Linked DNA regions of Homo sapiens. The protein of the gene in region 2 interacts with the protein of the main gene of each other region in a pairwise test. Each region holds a gene or a part of one and is shown on either strand. Other genes may lie near its edges.

The links.
Region 1: the proteins of SEMA3B (region 2) and RBPMS2 interact in binary tests that used the Homo sapiens proteins (3 or more experiments, as listed by UniProt).

Annotation. Positions count from the first base shown.
Region 1 is NC_000015.10:64,751,285-64,758,606, forward strand, and holds part of RBPMS2 (RNA-binding protein with multiple splicing 2), read right to left. Parts: intron 355-7,322; coding exon 277-354; intron 1-276.
Region 2 is NC_000003.12:50,264,915-50,272,451, reverse strand, and holds the start of SEMA3B (semaphorin-3B isoform 1 precursor), read right to left. Parts: upstream 3,306-7,537; 5' UTR 3,212-3,305; coding exon 3,103-3,211; intron 2,326-3,102; coding exon 2,168-2,325; intron 2,020-2,167; coding exon 1,957-2,019; intron 1,563-1,956; coding exon 1,443-1,562; intron 1,365-1,442; coding exon 1,271-1,364; intron 1,092-1,270; coding exon 972-1,091; intron 1-971. UniProt on the Homo sapiens protein: Inhibits axonal extension by providing local signals to specify territories inaccessible for growing axons.

The DNA of each region.
Region 1 (7,322 bases), on a different chromosome or scaffold from region 2:
ATCAAGCCACTGCACTCTAGCCTGGGCGGCAGAGCAAGACTCGTCTCGAGGAAAAAAAAAAAAAGATTCTTACTGTCTCCATTTAACTGGCGAGGAAACAGAGGCTCAGAAGGCAGCATGTGAATTCGCAGAACCAGGACACGGGCTGGACCTGCCCCCACAGCTTCTGCCACGCCTTCCCGCATCATCCTGCTGCCCTGCCCGACCCGAGATTCACTCCCGCTGCTTCTCCAGGGTCCCAGGCTCTACCCAGGGGGCGGCTGGGTCCTGACTCACCTTGAACGGCCGGAAGAGCAAGTAGAGTTCTCTGGGTTTAATGTCCACAGGGAGGCCGCTGACAAACAGTGTCCGGACCTGGAGACAGAGACCAGTGATCAGGGCCAGGCTGCCCAAGACGGACAGGGATGACAACAGCGCTTCCTTCAGGCAGGCAACTGGAATCCTTCTAGAGCTTAGAGGAATTCAGCCTTTCCTGGGCCTCCTTGGATACCCAAGGCAAATTAACATTGTTTCACAGCACTCAATTTCTCAAAGCCCTTTCCTTTCTCTGGGTACATCCCAGAGGCATCGTGCTGCGTCTGCCGGATGCCTCTGCACACAGACTGAGTCTGCTGGTGAACAGAGGCAAAAAGAAAGCCCTGTTTGATAAGGGTACAAACCCAGCCCAGCATGCCTTTTTTTTTTTCTTTTTTTTTTTTGAGACAGAGTCTTACTCTGTTGCCCAGGCTAAACTGCAGTGGCGTGATCTCAGCTCACTGCAACCTCCACCTCCTGGGTTCAAGAGATTCTCCTGCCTCAGCCTCCTGAGTAGCTGGGATTACTGGGGTACACCACCACGCCATGCTAATCGGTATGCCTTTTCAAACCAAAGCCTCCTCTAAAAATCTGAAGAAAGCTGCAGTGCCTGACCCCCCAAAAATGTACATGTAAAAATGTATCTATTTTTTTAATCCATTGCACCACTGGCCCCTCAGACAAAAAAGTATCTGTTTTCTAGATGATACCCATGGCCTCCTGGTAGAGAGCCTCCAGTCTGGTCGAGGGGAGGAGCAAAGATGTAAAGGAAACAGAGTCCCATGCCCACTATCCCCTGCAGTGATTTCAACAGAGGGCCCGGCACTTTCTCATCCATCTCCTGCTCCTACACGAGATGTGGGACCTTCAATGTCAAGAAACACCTTATACTCCTGCCTCTCTGCCTGCTCTTAGCATGGTGATGGTACTAAATGTTGACTGAACAGGGTAATGGGTAAACAGTCAAAACCATTATGCTGAGTTTTGAAGAACACGCTAAGATCTTGCCAGCTTCAGGTGAAGCATTTGATGCTGTGAGTTTTTTTTTTTTTGAGATGGAGTTTTGCTGTCACCCGGACTGGAGTGCAGTGGCGCCATCTCGGCTCACTGCAACCTCTGCCTCCCCGGTTCAAGCGATTCTCCTGCCTCAGCCTCCCATGTAGCTGGGATTACATGCATGCACCACCATGCCCAGCTAATTCTTTGCATTTTTAGTAGAGATGGGGTTTCACCACATTGGTCACGCTGGTCTCGAACTCCTGACCGCAAGTGATCCGCCCACCTCGGCCTCCCAAAGTGCTGAGATGACAGGATTGAGCCACCGTGCCCGGCTGATGCTGTGAATTTTGAGCATTGCCCCCAACATGGTTACAAGCCAGATCTAAACACTAGGTGTCCATCCTGTGACTGTAGCCACTGCTGCTATTTAAACGCTGCTGGCACCGGATGCTAAACTAGCAAGCCCTGATCAGCCAAAAATTGTGATGGGGAAGGGGAGACTTTCCATAGCTTAGATCCATTCAAAACATTTTTTGAAACCGTGGCTTCCTGAATAATGAAAAATGTGAACAAGCAGAGCGTCCCTACACGCTTGACTCCTGCTCTGGGCCACATCTCCTCCTGCGAAGCCAAGCACAGGTCTTCTGAACTCACCGCTGCAGATTTTAGAAGTTCACATGCCTCACCCCATCACGCGGCCATTCTTGAAAGCATTAAGTTGCCCTACAGTGGGCCACATCCCCTTCTTGAGAGGTACCAAAGAACTTGCTCCGCTCTCTAGTGATGGCCCGCTGACCCCAGACAACAGCCTTTCTGAGACGATGGCTTTTATCAGTGGCTTGTCTCAGGAAGCTGGAGCAATGTTAGGTAAAACTACACCCAATGCACCCAGAGAACTCAACAGAGCCAAGAATGTCAAAGGAAATCAGCCAGGATAGCTGCTGGTTACTGGTGTCACCACTCCCACCCACGCAAGAATGACTCTCAGCCACGGTGAAGACAAACTTTGTCTCTTAAACTTTGACTCTCAGCCATGGTGAAGACAAACCTCACGTGAGCTTTTGCCAAGCCCATTCAGCAGAATCTCGGGCCGCTTGGGACGCATCTTCTCCCTTGGGACACGTCTTCCCCTCAGTAGAGGCACCACTATACCAGCCTCTGTGCCCGGGGTTGGGGTGATGGCACCTCACACCTCACAGCCCTGGCAGCTCATGTCCCACGGAGACACCACTCGAATCCTGCTTTGTTGTTGGCAGCATCTGGGGGTCTGGATAGCCAAGGATCCAGGATGGGTGAAACCGAGCTCCTGACCTGAGCCCAGCAGGCCTCTCTGCCCTTTGATGTAAGGGCCTTGAGGTGTGCGTGTGAATCCCCAAGCAGAAGTGACTTGTCCAAGGTCACATGGCTTGTTCTTTAAAGGCAGCAGACCTGGAACTCAAAACCCAGGCCTCGGCCAGGTGCAGTGGCTCATGCCTGTAACCCCAGCACTTTGGAAGGCTGAGGCGGGTGGATCACTTGAGGTCAAGAGTTTGAGACCAGCCTGGCCGACGTGGTAAAACCCCATCTCTACTAAAAATACAAAAAATTAGCCAGGTGTGGTGGCCCATCCCTGCAGTCCCAGCTACTTCGGAGGCTGAGGCAAGAGAATCACTAGAACCCAGGAGGCAGAGGTTGTGGTGAGCCAAGATCGCACCACTGCACTCCAGCATGGGCGACAGAGTGAGACTCCATCTCAGAAAAAAAGAAAAAAAAGGCTGGGCGTGGTGGCTTACACCTGTAATCCCAGCACTTTGAGAGGCCGAGGTGGGTGGATCACTTGAGGTTGGGAGTTCAAGACCAGCCTGACCAACATGGAGAAACCCCGTCTCTACTAAAAAATACAAAATTAGCTGGGTGTGGTGGCGCATGCCTATAATCCCAGCTACAAGGGATGCTGAGGTAGGAGAATCACTTGAATCGGGAGGCAGAGGTTGCAGTGAGCTGAGATCACACCACTGCACTCCAGCCTGGGCAACAAGAGCAAAACTCCGTCTCAAAAAAAAAACCCAAAACCCAAGTCTTCCTACTACATGCCCAGCCTGGCCCACTGCACTCCAGCCTGAGCAACAAGAGCAAAACTCCGTCTCAAAAAAAAAAAACCCAAAACCCAAGTCTTCCTACTACGTGCCCAGCCTGGCAGAGGTGATGGGTGCTTTGGGTGCTGGGAAAGGACGACAGGACCCGAGCACCAAGCCCTCTGGGTAGCCCAGGGTCTGCCTCCAACACCTCACCCCAGAGGATGGGCCAAGAGTGCAGCCACCAGCGTCCTGATGGAGGGACCTAGATCGGTACCACTCCCTTCTCTCCTCCCCTTCCTCCCCAGGAAAGCAGGACATGATTTGGGTCAAAGACCCAGACCAGAGCAGACCCACGGAAACCTCTGCTTCAGTTCTCCCCAGGGGCCACACATTTCACCCAGGCTAATTTTAAACCCTCCCTCAAATGGCTCCTTTCTGGCCAGACCTCCCCAGAGGCCTCTTAAATAGCAAGTTCTCAGCACAGAGTTTCCGCTTGGGGTAGGGTGGGGTGAGTGTAGGGGCTGTTTCCTTATCCTGGCTCAAGACTCGTTTCCAGCCAGGATTCCCTCTGGGTCCGATGACCCTTTTCCTCAGGGTTCCATCTTTCAGGTTCTATAGAGTCCAAAAGGCTACCCCACAGCTCCCATCCTGTCCCTGGCCACCTCTCAGGTGGTCAAGGCAGTCACGGATGAGCTGGTGGGCCCGTCTGCCTGAGCACAGATGCTCTGTGGGGAGCAGTCCGGGAGGCTAAATCACAGCAAGTGTGATTCCCAAACACCCGCCTTGGTTCCTACTAGATTCCAGCCACCCCAGCAGATGACATCTTAAAGCCCAGCCCCTTGTACAGACAGGGAGACTGAGACCCAGAAAGCCTTGGTGATTTGTCAACGGCACACAGCTGAGTTCACGGAGGAGCAGGGCTCCTGAGACCAGGCACCCTGACTCTGCTGTTTGTGAGGGCAGGGGGAGCGGCACAGGGCAGCCTCATCAGCGTCATGGGTGGGTAAGTGCTGCCATCCATCCACTCAGTATGACACTTGTTTAGGATGACAGCCACACCAGAGTGAGGAGGGCAGAAAAAGGGGAAACTGGCAAACCAGGAGCAGGGGAAGCGTGGGCTCCGCAGGCTGACCAGCCACATGTAGGGAGGAACAAGAGGTTCCAAAGCCGCCCAACACCTGCTTCCATCAAGCCCGCCCAGCCCACCCACTCCAGGGCCCTGACAAGCGTCCACAAGGCTGCCTGCACTGCCCCCTCGGCTCACCCCTTCCTCACTCCTTAACTAAAGGTATCCAGCCTTCAGGTCTTTCCGGAGTCCTCAACTACCCTTTCCTTCCTCTGAAGCCCCACAGTGGCCGTTAGGACCCCTCGCCTTATAGTTCCCAGCAGTCTGAGGTACCCCTCACCTTGACTACAGAAAGCCCTAGAGACAGGAACCAAGCCTCAAAACATTTCCATCTCCCAATGTCCCTAGAGTCAGGTCTAAGCACTGGAGACCTCCCCCATCTCTACACACCTCAGTCCCTGCAGAGAAGAAACTCACAGCCAGAGACCAGATACGATCCAGCATGGCAGAACGATACCATAAATGGCAGAGAGGGCCGGGCATGGTGGCTCACACCTGTAATCCCAGCACTTTGGGAGGCCAAGGAGGGTGGATCACTTGCGGTCAGGAGCTTGAGACCAGCCTGGCCAACATGATGAAACCCCGTCTCTACTAAAGATACAAAGTTAGCTGGGTGTGGTGGCGCACACCTGTAGTCCCAGCTACTTGGCAGGCTGAGGCACGAGAATCCCCTGAACCCTGGAGAGATGGAGGTTGCAGTGAGCCGAGATCATACCATTGCACTCCATCCTGGGCAGGAGAGCAAGACCCTGTCTCAAAAAAAAAAAAAAGGCAAAGAGAACAGGCCTTAGTTACACTGGAGTTTGCTTCCTAGCTTCATGCTTGGCCTGAGGAAGCCACTTCATCTTTCCGAATCTCAGTTTCTTATTTTTATTTATTTTTCATTTCTTTTTTTTTTTTTTATGGAGTCTCGCTCTGTTGCCCAGGCTGGAGTGCAGTGGCACAAACTCTGCTCACTGCAACCCTGTCCTCTGGGTTCAAATGATTCTCCTGCCTCAGCCTCCCAAGTAGCTGGAATTACAGGCGTCTGCCACCACGCCCAGCTCTTTTTTTTTTTTTTGGAGAGACAGGGTTTCACCACGTTGGCCAGGCTGGTCTCCTCACCTCAAGGAGTTCCTTGAGGTCAGGAATCCCTGACCTCAAGTGATCCGCCCGCCTTGGCCTCCCAAAGTACTGGCATTATAAGTGCGAGCCACCATGCCCGGCCTCATTTTTTTTTTTTTTTTTTTGGAAATGGAGTCTCGGTCTGTCTCCCAGGCTAGAGTGCAGTGGCGCTATCATAGCTCACTGCAGCATCAAACTCTTAGGCTCAAGAGATCTTCCTGCCTCAGCCTCCAGAGTATCTGGGACTATAGGTGTGCACCACAATGCCTGGCTAGCTTTTCCATTTTTGTAGCGATGAGGTCTCACTATGTTGCCTGGGCTGGTTTTGAACTCCTGGGCTCAGAGAATCCTTCTGCCCTGGCCTCCCCAAAGTGGTGGAATTACAGGTATGAGCCACCATGCCTGGCCTCAGTTTCATCTTCACAACACAAACACCATCTACCTCCAAGACTAAGAGCTCACCTTACTCTCCCCATTACTTGTGAGAGCAATAAAATGCTGGCTTCATTTAGGGCTCCTGCATTTACCTGCACAAGGATCTCCCTCATCAGGTGCCATGAGCCACTTATTAAGGTTGTCTACTGAAGCTGGTAATGTGGGTAGGATGTCCTAAGGTGGTCACTAGATTCTTTAGTTTTTCTCTTCCCCAGAGGAGGTAATGCCCGAAATAGAAGACACCACAGAGATCAGCTAGTTCAACCCCTTCGTTTTATAGATGGGGAAACTGAAGCCAAGAACAGGGTAACAAGGCAAGCTGATGGCACAGCCAGGATCTTTCAGCAATGGCAGGAACAGAGACATGCAGTTACTTCTCCAAGGTCCAGCCAACTAGTCTTGTGTCTCAGGCCAGTACAGGGGACCATTGTGGTACCTACGTCAGGGTAACAGGGGAAACATTCAGGAACAGGCTGGATGCTCCAACCTGGGCAATATAGCAAGGCCCTATCCCCCCCCACAAAAAATCAGCCAGGCGTGGTGGAAGGCACCTGAAGTCTGAGCAACTCGGGAGGCTGAGGTGGGAGCATCGCTTGAGCCCAGGAATTCAAGGCTGCAGTGAGTCATGATTGCACCACTTGAATTCCAGCCTGGGCAACAACAGAGCAAGACCCTACCTCTAAAAAACAAAAATAAAAAATAAAAGGTTAGATGCAGACAAGGATTCAGGCACCGACAACTAGTTGATGACAAGGAAAGTTCAACCAAATAACTCATGTCCTGCCTATTCCATGGGTTTATTACAAGAATTCAGCACATACACAAAACGTTTTAAAGCATTTAAAGAGTGCACAGGGGTGGTTCTCACAATCTCAGGCTGCTGGAAGGCACCAAACGCATTCACTTGGGCCCTTTTCCATACTCTCATCCCTTCTGCAGAAGCATCCAGCAACCCAAGGGTTCCTGTCCCAAAATGTGAAGAGCAACCACAGCCCTTCCAAAAAAGTCACCCTTATGGCAAGTAAGAGCAGAAATGCTGGGAGCACAGTCAGGTCCTCAGCACAGCTGGAAGGTACACCTGTAGTCACATGGAGCAGGTATGGGGGAGACCGGGGGAACGGATGGAGGATGATTCTGAGAACTCAGTCAAAGATACTTGTTGAGGAACAACCCTTCTGGTGGAACCTGCTGCAAGCACCAATATAGGCAAGGAACGTGGCCAGGGTTGTGTACCCATACAGAATACCACAGACATGGCTGTGTGGCTCTCATGACCCCACAGGAGCAGACCCAGCCCTGCTGGAGGT
Region 2 (7,537 bases):
GGTGCACACCACTGCACCCGGCCAATTTTTGTATTTTTTAGTAGAGACAGGGTTTCACCATGTTGGCCAGGCTAGTCTCAAACTCCTGGCCTCAAGCGATTTGCCTGCCTCCGCCTCCCAAAGTGCTGAGATTACAGGTGTGAGCCACTGTGCCCACCAGCCCATAGCCCTTATTTAATTTTTATTTGATTTAGAGACAGGGTCTGCTCTGTCCTGCAGTGGCAGCATCATGGCTCACTGCAGCCTCCAACTCCTGGGCTCAAGTGATCCTTCCATCTCAGCCTCCTGACTAGCCAGGACTACAGGTGTGTGCATGCCACTGCCCCCAGCTAATTTTATTTTATTTTTTGTCTTGCTTTGTAGCCCAGGCTGGTATGAAACTCCTGTCTTCAAGCAATCTGTCTGCCTCAGCCTCCCAAAGTGCTGGGATTACAGGTGCAAGCCATTGTGCCCAGCCCCCATGACTCTTAGAATAAATGACTCTGGCCCCTGACAGTCCAGGCCCCCTTTTCATTGCTAGCTCTGCAAGTCTATTCCTTTGCTTGTTCTTGCATCCAGGCCTTTGCACTAGTTGCTCCCTCTGCCTGGAATGCTCCCTCTGCCTGGAATGCTCATCCCTAAATTTTGCTGGCTAGCTGTCTTGTGCTTGGGAATTAGCTCATACTCCCCTCAGCACAGCGGCTTCCTTTACCCAACCCCCTCCAGCCACCCAGTCTCCTTTTCCCTTCCTCCCTTGTCTCTCTCTGGCCTCAAGGCCATTGGACTTGATCTTATCATGTATGTGATCTGTGAACTCAAAGAGGTCACGGTCATACCTGTCTTGTCTGTCTCTGTGACGCCAGTGCCTGATTAAGGAGGGTATTTGGTAAGACCTGGCCACACCCACTGCTCACTTACTTTATGGGCCTTGCTTGGCACCTGCCCTGTGGGAGGGTGACGACCTCTACCCACCAACCCCACCAGCCTCTCACCATTGAGCCAGCGGGAGTCGTGTGGCTCTGTTCGGAGACTTGGACGTTGCCCTAGGCTGCGAAAGATGGTAAAGTCTCGTCCCATGAGGTCTGCTGCCACCCCTGAGTATAGCTCCTCCCCTGCAGACAGAGCAAGGGCCACTCAGGCAAATGGAGGGCTCTTGGGGCAGGAGGGCCTGGGGAGCTCTGGGAGTGAGTGAGGTTATGGGGGATTCCCTGGAGCTCTTGGGGGTCTTGGGACTTTGTGAGGTTCTAGAGTTTCTAAGGGGTTCTCTTGGGGCCTTAGCCCTTGGACTCACCCACCAGCACGGAGGCAGCCCGATGCCTGGGGTCATAAGGACTCTTCCCCTTGCCATCCTCTATCCTTCCTGGGTCCAGCCGGAGGACGGGCTCCTGGGAGGTGTGGCAAGTTGTGACTACCAGGCCCTTCTTACCCTCCTGACCTCCCTCCCTGCCTAGATCCGGCCTTACCTCTGCCCGGTGGCCCACTTCCACAAAGGCACAGGTTGGGTGGAAGGCTCCCGTGCCACAGGCCAGCAAATGGGTGCGGTTGTAGGCATGCAGCAACTTCACGAAGTTCATGCACTCAGTCTAGTAGGGTTGGAGGTGTGAGGCTTCCCCCAGGGACGTAGCCTTAAGAGGTCCCAGCTCACCAGTGGCATCCTCACCCCTCCCTCTCTTCGGCATCAGCCCAGGCAAGTACTAACATGGGCTACAGGGACCTGGGGGCCCTTGCTGACCAGCCCAGGCCTCACGAGGGTGGGTGTCTGGGGAAGCACAGGCCTGCAAAGCCTCCCATGACTCAGAGGCACCCCAGAAGAATTACACGAGCCCCCACCCTGACTCACCACCCCCAGACCTCAGCCACCTCGACCTCCCTGCCCTCATCCCAGCCAGAACAGGCAGGCCTCTGTTTTAGCCCTGCCCTGTCTCTGGGGTGAGGGGCTGACCCTCCCCACTCCCGGCCCGGGCAGCTGGCACTCACACCAATGTCCTTCCCTGCCCAGTTGCACTCCTCTCGCCATTCCACAGGGGCCGGCCAGGCCAGCTATCGGGAGGTTGGGGGAGAGGGGACACAGGTCAGGAACTTGGGATATTCTCTACCTCAGGGAGCCATTCCTCTGGGTCTCTCCAGGCTGGAGTGGGGTCCCAGGGCTCCTTCCCTGGGGAGTGCTGGGGTTGGGAGTCCCTGGCACCTTCTTGGCCCGCTTGCTGATGTTGTCCAGGTTGAGGGAGGCCACATGGTTCTCGGCACCCACAAACAGGCGTCCACGCTCCTCATCCACCAGCAAGGCCTGGTAGCAGCAGGTTCGCTCCAGGCTGAAAGTCTGGAGACCATGCCAGGCCTGGAGCTCTGCAGGGCAGGACACTGCTGATGACTCGCCAGCCATGCTGGAAGCCTCCCCCAGGTCCTGCCTGGTGGTGACTCTATCGGCCAAGGTTGCCATTAGGACCTGGCCTGTACACATGTGAGTTTACATGTGTGTGAGTTTACACACGCAAACCCAAGCCCACCCAGGTGCACGTGTGGAGCTGCCAGGGTAGGTGGTACATCCCCCCAGGAAGAGGAAGGCAGGTTGAACTTGGGCATGCTCAGACAGGTGGTGTCTCCAGGCGGGCGCACTGGGAGGCAAGGCTTATGGACACCAGAGTCCTGGGGGAGACTGGCATGCAGGGATGGCCAGAACCCCAACTCCCAAAAGTCAGGCTGAGAGTTCCTTTCCTGCCACTCCACCACCAGCCTGAGCTCAGCAGAACTGCCTATTCACTGCCACTGCCCAGGGGCCACCCTCCTATACAGGAGGCATGAGAAGGGGGCTCTGACTTCCCTGTTGCTCTGCTGAAGGAGTATCGCCTTGTTGGGGGTACTGAACGGAACAGAGACAAGGTCTGTTGCTGTGGGGACAGGAGGGGTCTTCCTGAGAAAGCACGAAGAGAATGTGGGCAGAGGCTGGGGGCTGAGGCCCGGACAGGGTTAACTGGAGGTGGCCTGAGAGTGCCCACTAATCCTACCAGAGTCTGGTGACAGGCACGCACATGGGGCAACAGCCAACACAGAGCCCCCTGGCCATACGGGGACCCTTTCCTGCCCACCTCAAGCTGGGCCCTCCCGCCTGCCAGGTGCACCTACCTTGGAAGGAGAGCCGAAGGCGTGGGGGGCTGGGGGCGGCACTCCCCAGCCCCACTGCCCAGAGCAGGGCCAGGCCCGGGATCACGGCGGCAGCCCCGGCCCGCCCCATCTCAGCAGCTCAGGGTGCTCAGGGTTCAGCGGGTGTGTGTGTGGAGGAGCCTTGAGCTGCCCTGGACTCTGCCCCAGGATCTGGAAGAGGAGTCAGCAGTGAGGGCGAGGGCGGGAGGCTAGGGGGGGAGTCCCCAGGGATCAGATTACAGCCCCTAGGGGAAAGAGGCTGGGGGGTCGCATTCCACTTCCGAACCCTCCCCTCCGAGGGTGCCCCGCCTGGCCACAATCACAGACACACCCACGCCACTGGGCACACCCTCAGGGTCACCCTGCACTGGCAAGCCCGCCTCACCACGTCACCCTTCCCAGTAATCTCCTCTCTTGTATACACACTCACAGACATTAATTCACAATGTGCCACCCACTTCATGCCAGCCTAGACCTGGGAGGAGGGATACTGGGAGACATAGACAAGGTCCCCATGTGAAAGGGGACAGAGTGCCAACAAGGAATCAGATGGATGCAGAGGGTGCCAAGTGCAATGAGCAAAACAAGCCAGTCAAAAGAGTGAGAGTGACAGGAGGGGGTCAGGCCTCTGGAGGTGGCAGTGTCCCCACAGTCCCGCAGAAAAACACAGAGACACTTTTGAGGCTGGAGCCAAGGGTGTGGGTGCCTGTGAATGTGTTTCCGAGTGTCCCCTTGTGATGTGCGCATGTGTGTAGTGTGTATGTGCATGTGTGTGCACATCTATGTGCAAATATATAGTGTGTCATATTGCACATGTGTGGATATGGGTTGGTGTGCACACACATGTGGCACTGTGCAATCCATGCAGTACATATGTGTGATATGTGCATATTTTGCACACAGATGTGTTGCACATTTGTGCATGTGCAAACGTGTGCACCCATAAGAATAGACATGTCTCTGGGCATGCAAGTGAGCAAATCCAACTGCAGCATCAATCACTCCATTCCTCAGAGGGAGAAGTGCTACCCAGGAGACCCAAGACCTGGGCAGAAGCCTCAGCCTCTGACTTGGGGACTGCTCCCAACCCAGCTGAAGCAGCCTCTGCATTTGAGCTTGAGGGCTCTCTCTCCACACCCCTGAGGAATCAAAGAGGGGCAAGGTGAGGCAGCCCTTCATTTGCACCCCAGCCTCCTGGCCTCGCTGAGCTGGCCTTCCCTCTCAACGCCTCCACAGCCTCTCTGAGCCTCTCCCTTCACTTCTCTCACCCCTTGAGTTCTTCCCCATCTTTGAGCCCCTTCACTCTAGGAGCCAGACACCTCCCCCTGGCCCTCAGCTGGGGCAAAGACCTGGCTGCTATGCCCACCCTCCTTCCCAGGGGTCAGCTGGGCAGGTGCTGGACACAGGAGCCCAGGGAGTGGGACAAGGTTCCAGGTGGGATTAAGCAAGTGGAGCAGCTGCTGAGGCAGGTTCCAGGCCCCTCCACCCACACTCCTGCCCAGCTCCTGGCCCCATCCCAGGCCAGGACCCCCACCTCCCTCCTTCCCTCCGCTGACACTTGCCGCTGCCTCTTCTCAGGTTCTAGAGGTCTTCCAGGCCAACACTGGCTGCCTTCTCACACTCCACCGAGGACTTCCGCAGCAGCATCTCTCCACTCTGGCCCCTTCCCACCCTGGGGCCGCTGGGGACCCTCTGACGGCTCCTTTAAGAAGCAGCCCCCGCCCCCACCAGGCCAGCCACCGCCCCACGCACCGCCCGCCGTGCCGTAAAGTTTAGAGGGCGGATCGGGTGACCGGGCAGGCAGCCGGGACCAGCTGGAGACGGCAGCCAGGCGGGAGTGGAATGGGCACAAGGGAGGGGCTGGTAGGGACGACCCCTCCCATATTGGGCCTTAAAGCAGAAGGGTGCCCCAGGTGGCGGTCCCAGAAGCCAGGTGGCCAGCCAAGGCAAGGGAGGAAGAAACCCCAGCTCCAGGGGCTCAGCAGGCAAAGGGAATCACTGAGTGGGGGCACCACCCGTGGACTCCAATATCTCAACCTCTCCCTCCACAGGTGGGGAGCTGTGGGGAAAGATAATGGGGAGCTCAGCTGCCACCTCAGTTCCCAGGGACCGGCTGGGGTGGCCGGGCAGCTGGAGGTCAGGGGAGGGGCTCTCAACTGGAGGTCGGATGGGCCCTCAGGACCCAGTCCCCATCCTTCCTCAACACTTGGGCCACTTAGTACTTCAGTGGCCTGGCCAGCAGTGGCTTCTACCATGACAGCCAGATAGGGGAGGGAGAGGAGGGCAGGAGAGGGGCAGACGCAGGAGGAGCAGCAAATCTCACTTCTGCACCACAGGGCGGGGCCCATCTGGAGTCCGCCATCCTGGACAGGTAGCTTTGCATCTCTGCTGAGAGGTTGGGGGGCAGACCATGTGACCTCCCTTCCTCTGGCTTCTCTTTCTAGGTTGGAGGTGGGAGGAACAACCCCCACCAAACCCAGAGCCGAAAACTGAGGGAGTTTTACAGACAGGACGGAGCTCCTGCACCTCGGAGCCTCAGTTGGGAATGACCTGGGGTCTTGTCCTGAAGCTGAGTCTGGTGAACGTGCCCCATTTGTAACATGAGGGGTACTTCTCTGGAGGGACTGTATGTTGACAGTGGCAGAGTGGAGCCCTGAAGTCCACCTGAGTGAATATACCAGGGCTTGAGAATGGGCTTTGATCCTTCCATCCCCGCAAAAGGCATTTTCCTACCACCTCCCAAGGCTGATGGGGCAGTGTGGGCATTTCAAGTGTTGCAGTTCTGTTGCCCAGCCCTGGATGCCTCCAGCCAAGCAAGGACAGAGGTGGGGGGCACATCTCCAAGTCCCCTGGAAGTGGAAGTGGGGCTATGCCCCTCCTTCCTGAGCCTGAGGACCTGGTATACCTGGCCTGGCCTGGCCAGCTGGCAGGTAAATAACAGGGGCCAGTGGGAGCCGCAGGGCCCTTCAGGAGGGCAAGTGGAAGGACAGATCCCTGCCTGGGCTCGTGGGCTTCCTGGATGTGGCCTTTTCCTACTCCAGGAGTAGCTGCCTCTAGCCTTAGAGGACCTGGGCAGGCTCTCCTGGCTCCATGCAAGCAGACAACATTCTTTGGCTGTTTACAGCTTTCCACCCAAGCAGCCAGGATCAGCAAGTGCCTCAGAGGCTCCCATCCACTCCCACTGTGCCCCCATAGGCCCTCACTGCCTTATGTTTTTCCAGGCCCAGGGGCCCTGTCTCTGTTTCATCACCCCGCACCTTCCTCCACCTGTGTTCACTCTGGGAAACGGTATCAGAAACCCCCCCGCCACCGCCATTATCTTTCCAATAGCCTGGGAGTCAACCCCCAGCCAAAAGGACTAGACTGTCTCTGTCCCCATTGAGTGCTGTGCCCTGTCCTCTGTCCTCTAGATGTGTACCCTCCCTTGAGTAGGAATGGAGGTCTCCAGGGATGGGAGGTCAAGTTGTCCCTGATTCCACATGGTCCCCTTTCTGTTCCTCAGCCCCAGGTCCAGTGTGCCAGGCCATGGGTAGGGGCCCCCATGGAGGTCAGCACTCCAGGAGCAAGGTCACTGCCTGTGGGTCACACTGGGGGCTGGAACTCCTCGAGGATTCTGGAATCAGGCAGCCTGAGCCTGAGTCTCAACAGAATGGGGCAAACCAGGCAAGGCAGCTGGGGTCCCTTTTCCTGCCTGTACTCCTACCCTGGACCTCTCTCTTTTGAGGGAGCTTCCATGGGCAGAGACCTGCCTGGGTCCTTGCTCTGGGGCTGCCTGTCAGTGGCATGGCCTACCACGGCCTTGGCTTTTCCTTCTGGAAAAACCTGGATTGTTGTGCCAAATCTCAGCACCTGCCTCCCCACCCCTGGCCACCAGCTGGGCCTGCCCCTTTGCCCCTGCCTGGACTCCGGGTGGTGTGGTTGGGGTGGGACACCCATCTGAGGAAGGTTGTGGCAACCCTCCCAGTGCAGCCTGGACTGGATGGGATCTTGGGCGCCCCACTCACACCTGCTTTAGTCATCAGGGCTTGTGGCTCCAACGTCACAACTCTTCCTTGTTCTGGCCACGTAGGTACCAGGTCATGCTGCCCAGAGGACTTAGGCACAGTGGGGGCAGGCGTGGGCGGCCATAGGATCATCACCTGAGGCCTAACTTCCCAGACACTCTAAGGCCCTGCCCCAGGGGCATCTCCTGGGGAAGCGTCTGCAGGCATGTCCTCACCCCAGCCTGGTCTCCACATTCCCAGGGAACCCTGGCCCACCTTTTTTGAAAGATTAGCTCCTCCCCTCCTTGCCTGTTCCCCTTCCCTTCTGAGGGCCCTGTCAGAACTGAGATGGAGGTGCTGAGGGAGGGGCTACCAAGAACCCTGGGCCTTTGGCTGTGGCCCTACCCCCGCCTGCCCCACCCCTGCCCTCCCCT